Linked DNA regions of Homo sapiens: region 2 is linked to region 1. The links come from fine-mapping of genetic effects on gene expression. Tissue or cell type: whole blood. Region 1 holds a variant in brackets; the other region holds the start of a gene. All regions are shown on one strand. Distances are between the middles of the regions.

Region 1 (2,754 bases):
AGGTAGGTTTGTGCCTCCCTGGCCCAGGGGTGCAGCCAGCTGAAAGATGGGCTTTGATCTGGTTCCAGTGCCTTTATCTAAGATTCTCTAGGCCTGGAGAGCCTCTCATGCCCTGCCAGGAAGCCAACAGAAAGGAAATGAGGCAGGTCAGCCTGCCCTGGGCAGAATAGAAACTGGAGCTCCTTCCTCTGGCCTGGGCCCAGACCACTGCAGAGCAGCTCAAAAACAGTAACCAGAGCCACCCATCACACCTTCCCGGCAGGACTTTGAGACCAACGATGAGCTCAAATGCAAGGTGATCGGCTTCCTGGAAGAAGTCATGCACGACCCGGAGCTCCTGACCCAGGAGCGGAAGGCTGCAGCCAACATCATCAGGTAAAGGCAGTACCTGGTTCCTGGCTCAGAACTGCCTGCTGGGACAGGAGCCCTGCCTTCTGCCTCCATGTGGGCTGGTCAGAGGCCCGGGAGGTGAAGAGCGCCCTTGTCAAGGACAGCCCCAAGTAGGAGTGCTGGGGTAGAGGTGAGCTCTTGGGGGCAGGCTCAGGGCTGGGTAGTCTATTTGTCCTTCTTTCCTCTCTCCCCACCCTGCGCCAGACCTTGATCTCTTCAAAGCAAGAACCCAGCACACTTCTCCATGTGTGTCCACAGCTGCTAACCCCTGTCTAGCCTGTGCCATCCAATATGGTAGGCACTAGCTACATAAGGCTATTTAAATCTTTTTTTTTTTTTTTTTTGAGGCGAAGTCTCGCTCTTGTCACCCAGGCTAGAATGCAGTGATGTGATCTTGGCTCACTGTAACCTCCACCTCCCAGGTTCAAGAGATTCTCCTGCCTCAGCCTCCCCAGTAGCTGGGATTATAGGCACCTGCCACCACGCCCAGCTAATTTTTTTTGTATTTTTAGTAGAGACGGGGTTTCACCATGTTGGCCAGGCTGGTCTCAGTCTCCTGACCTCAGGCGATCTGCCCACCTCGGCCTCCCAAAGTGCTGGGATTACAGGCATGAGCCACTATGCCCGGCCTTGGCTATTTAAATCTTAATGAAAATTAAATAAAATTTAAAGTTCAGTTCCTCAGTGACATGAGCCCAGCAGCCTCAGCTTCACCCCCGACATGTGGCTAGCAGTCCCTGCATTGGACAGTACAGGGTGTAGGATGCTGCCATCACTGCAGAGATCTATTAAACAGTGCTGGCGAGGCCTGATTTGTAGGTGCTTGAGTGTCTGTTGAATTGAATTCAGTTAAGTTGTTTATCCCCAAACCCATGCTTGTCCTCTCCTGGTGGAGGTCAGGGTCAGGCAGCCCGATGTCTGAGATGCTCAGCCAGTGACTCATGTGACCTGGGCAAGTCCCCGCTCTGAGCCTCATCCATAAAAT[G/A]GGTGAACAATACCCGCTTCAAGGCTGGGATGAGATCACGGGTGTCACTTTTACAGGCTGTTCAGTGGGTGGCGGGCACCTACCGACTCAGCCTGTCTGCTCCCAGCCCAGCCCAGGTGTGAGGGCTTGGGCCCTGGCCTTTCCTCCTCACCTCTTGCCTGGCCCCAGCCTCCCCAGACTTTCCCCCAAGTCCTGCCTGTGACCAGAGTGCCCAGACATCCTCCCCAGCCAGGCCGTGGAGGCCCCATGCTGGGGCCCATTCTTCCCTCAGGCTCACAGTCCTAAAATCTCTTTCAGGCCTCCACATCTTCAGTACAGAGGCCAGAGTGTGTGCACACATGCCCACACACACACACACGCACACACACACACAGCCGCCACTCGTGGTCCTCCCAGGAGGCCTTAGGAGTGTGTGGAGCCCCCCACCGAGCATATTGATCAAAGCCACCCTCGGAGGGGAGCCTGTTCCCTGGGTGTGATGAAAGAGCAGGCTCTGGAGTTGGCAGCCCTGGTTTGGAGCGTGGGCCCACCATGCTCCAGCTGCGGGACCCCAGGTGAGGCAGTTCCCTGAGGGGCCGTTTCCTCAGCTGTAAGATATACACGACAATGCCTTCTGCCAGGCTGATCCAGAGAGCCACTCCCCGCAGCCCCGGCAGGCCTGCAGACCCCTGGCTGTCCCCACGCAGCCCAGGCCTGGCTCTCCAGTGTCCGCAGCCTCCGTTGGTACTCACCAGCTGTGGCTCTGAGCCCATCACTGTGAGCGTGCGGCACTTTGGCCTGACTTTGAGGCTCTACCCTCATTCCCCACCGTGTGTACCACTCTCCTCTGCTCTCCCAATTCCATCCTTGCAGTCCCTCCTCTGGGCCTGTGGCTGCCATGCTGCTGCCTCCCCACTCCCTGTGCTTCCTTCCTGTCATGCATCCTGTCATCCATGTGCTCGCAGGAGCGCCTGCTGAATGTCCAGTCCTGTGCTGGCACCAGAGCTATGGGGCTGAATCAGACACCGTCCCTCCCTCAAGGGCTCCCTGCCTGAGGTGGCAGAAAGGCCATTCCCACCCAGCCAGATGCAGGAAGCCCAGGGGCTGAGAGGGCCCCAGAAGGGGACCTCCCACAGCCAGGAGCGCCAGGACCATCAGGAAGAAGAGTGAAGGAGGAAGGGGAAAGGGTGCTCCTGGCAATGGGGATGACGAGGACAGAGGGGCGTAAGAGCAGAGGCCGTGTGGGGCTGTCCGAGCTGGGGAGGGGCTGCTGCAACGTGAAGTGGGGCTCACCGTGCCTTCTCGCTCCTGCCTAGGACTCTGACCCAGGAGGACCCAGGTGACAACCAGATCACGCTGGAGGAGATCACGCAGATGGTGAGCTGGGCCTGCCCTCTTGC
Region 2 (2,754 bases), 52 kb after region 1:
GGGTCAACAACATGCCACTTTGCAAGGTGATGATGTAAGTGAAGAACAGGGCATCACTGGGCATTTGAGGCTACGGCACAGGCTGGTCTGAATCACCCTCTCCTCACCCAAAGCAGTGACAGCACCGGCCTCCTCAGCCTGGAACGCACGTTCTTCTGTCTGTCTCACACCCAGACCCTTACATACCATCTTCTTTAGCTTTGCAAACTACAGAGAATGGCCCTACAGCTCTTAATGTAGCTTCCTCAGCAGAAAGACTAAAATGTCTGTTGAGGGGGCAAAACAATTCACAAGGAGGTCGTCTAGCTTCTTCAGTTGTAAGTCCACTCCAAGCAAAAGGGAAGCCAGGGAAATGTGGTTAACCAGGGCAGGGAGACGTGGGGAGTGTGGGGGAAAGTCTGAGGTGGAGACACACAGGGACATGGGGGGTATGAGGTGGGGACAGGCAGGGAGATGGGGGTGCAAGGTGGAGACACGCAGGGACATGAGGGGGTGTGAGGTGGGGACAGGCAGGAAGATGGGAGGTGCAAGGCGGGGACAGGCAGGGACATAGGGGTGTGAGGTGGGGAAATGCAGGAAGATGGGGGGATGTGAGGTGGGGACTGGCAGGGATATGGGGGTGTGAGGTGGGGACAGGCAGAGACATGGGGGTGTGAGGTGGGGACAGGCAGGGACATAGGGGTATGGTGGGGATAGGCAGGGAGATGGGGGGTGCGAGGTGGGGACAGGAAGGGACATAAGGCTGTGAGGTGGAGACAGGCAGGGACATGGGGGGTGTGAGGTGGGGACAGGCAGGGAGATGGGGGGTGCGAGGTGGGGACAAGCAGGGACATGGGGAGTGCGAGGTGGGGACAGGCAGGGACGTGGGGCGTGCGAGGTGGGGACAGGCAGGGACATAAGGGTGTGAGGTGGAGACAGGCAGGGACATGGGGAGTCTGAGGTGGGGACAGGCAGGGAGATGGGGGGTGTGAGTTGGGGACAGGCAGGGAGATGGGGGGGTGCGAGGTGGGGATAAGCAGGGACATGGGGGTGCGAGGTGGGGACAGGCAGGGACATGGGGGTGGGAGGTGGGGACAGGCAGGGACATAGGGGGTGGGAGGTGGGCACATTCAGGGAGATGGGGGTGTGAGGTGGAGACAGGCAGGGACATAGGGGGAGCGAGGTGGGGACAGGCAGGGAGATGGAGGGTGCAAGGTGAAGACAGGCAGGGACATGGTGTGAGGTGGGGACAGGAAGGGACATGAGGGGTGCGAGTTGGGGATAGGCAGGGAGATGGGGGGGTGCGAGGTGGGGACACGCAGGGAGATGGGGGACGTGGGGATGGCGACAGGCTGGGAGAGGGAGAGGCCAGGCTGAGACCTCCCCGCGCGGTGCCAGCCAGTCCAGGCAGATCCAGGACTCAGCCAGGCCTGATACCCAGATAAGCCCTTCCTCCCAGAGGAGATAAGGGAGCGACGCGGCCGGCCGACAGGTGAACTAGAGCTGGCGAGTTAGTCGGCGCCGCCCCCTCCCGCGAGCCCGGCCTCGGGGGAGTACCGCCCACCCCGCCCCGCGCTCGCTCCGCCCCGCGCTCGCTCCGCCCCTTCGCGCTCCCGCCGCTCCTCCACGCTCGTGCCGCTCCCCCCCCGCGCTCCCAGTTGACGCTCTGGGCCGCCACCTCCGCGGACCCTGAGCGCAAGAGCCAAGCCGCCAGCGCTGCGATGTGGGCCACGCTGCCGCTGCTCTGCGCCGGGGCCTGGCTCCTGGGAGTCCCCGTCTGCGGTGCCGCCGAACTGTGCGTGAACTCCTTAGGTACGCAGAGGGCGCGCCGCCCGAGAGGGTGCTAGCAGGCCCTAGAGTGGACGCTGGGAGAACTTGGCCAGGGGCGCACTGGGCTCCGGAGGAACGGGGCAGAGCTTTCCCCGGTGAGAGGCCAGGAACTCTGCGTGCTGGCACGGGGAGGGGTAAACTGCATTATAGGCGGGGGTTCTCGGAGGGTGGGCGGCTTGTAGGACCAGAGGAGCAGATGGGCTGAGTGTCCAGGGTCCCACCTAGCCAGGTGGCTCTCCAGCCTAGAATACCAAAGGAGCCCGCAGCTCCTTCCGCCTTCCTCAACTGGGGACACAGAGTGTCACACAGAGGACTCTGATCTGTCCCTGCCAGAGGTGAGCAAGGACGTCCCAGCCTTCTCTAGCAGCTTCCCCCGGGACTTGGCACACAGGGGATCCCCGTAGTGTCTTGGGAGTCCCATCTGTAGAGTAGGTTGGACGGGCTGTTTGGAACAGTGAATCCCTGTGCAACGGCACCAGGGAAAGCACTCAGACCAACAGCGCTTTTAACAGCACCCCAGGGCCCATGGCGTCAGGTGGAGCCCCAGGACTCCTCTTGTTGGCCAGATTGGCTGCGACTGGTCCAGCTTCGTGCTGCCCTTGCATCCTGTCTACTGCCCGGGCTCAGGCACCTCCCCTGGCTGAAGGCAAGGAGCCTGCTCTTCCCTACTGCCTCCCTCCTTTCCTACTGTCCCTGGTCCCAGCCTCAGCCCACAGGCTCTGAACTTAAAGACCACCTGCCCCCTTCACCGAGAAAAGTAGCCAAGAAACAACCCAAGGAGCCAAGAACCTAGGGAGGGGGGGTGCCCTGAGCTCTGGAGGAACGGGACAGGGCTTTCCCCCAGCTAGAGGCTCAGGGGATGGGACAGAGATCACTGAGGCTGAATCTGGGCCAGAGGGTTGCCTCATTCCTTCCCACCTATTTATTTAAAAAGCTCCCCAGCCT

Evidence for each region. PIP is the estimated chance that this variant, and not a neighbour inherited with it, causes the effect.
Region 2: it holds the start of CTSH, and the variant in region 1 is fine-mapped to the expression of CTSH in whole blood (INTERVAL, PIP above 0.99).

The regions. Positions count from the first base shown.
Region 1 is chr15:78,995,717-78,998,470 of GRCh38, reverse strand. RASGRF1 (Ras protein specific guanine nucleotide releasing factor 1) reads left to right here. Exons shown (of 27, transcript NM_001145648.3): 19 at 263-375; 20 at 2,671-2,731. Among named protein-coding and RNA genes, the nearest start is that of CTSH, 52 kb to the right of the region's middle. RefSeq lists an enhancer at 1,249-2,022. The variant G/A (reference allele first, on the strand shown) is at 1,376.
Region 2 is chr15:78,943,928-78,946,681 of GRCh38, reverse strand. CTSH (cathepsin H) reads left to right here and starts at 1,636. Exons shown (of 12, transcript NM_004390.5): 1 at 1,636-1,791. The coding sequence starts at 1,701. RefSeq lists silencers at 1,434-1,783, 2,221-2,515 and enhancers at 1,366-1,904, 1,905-2,443.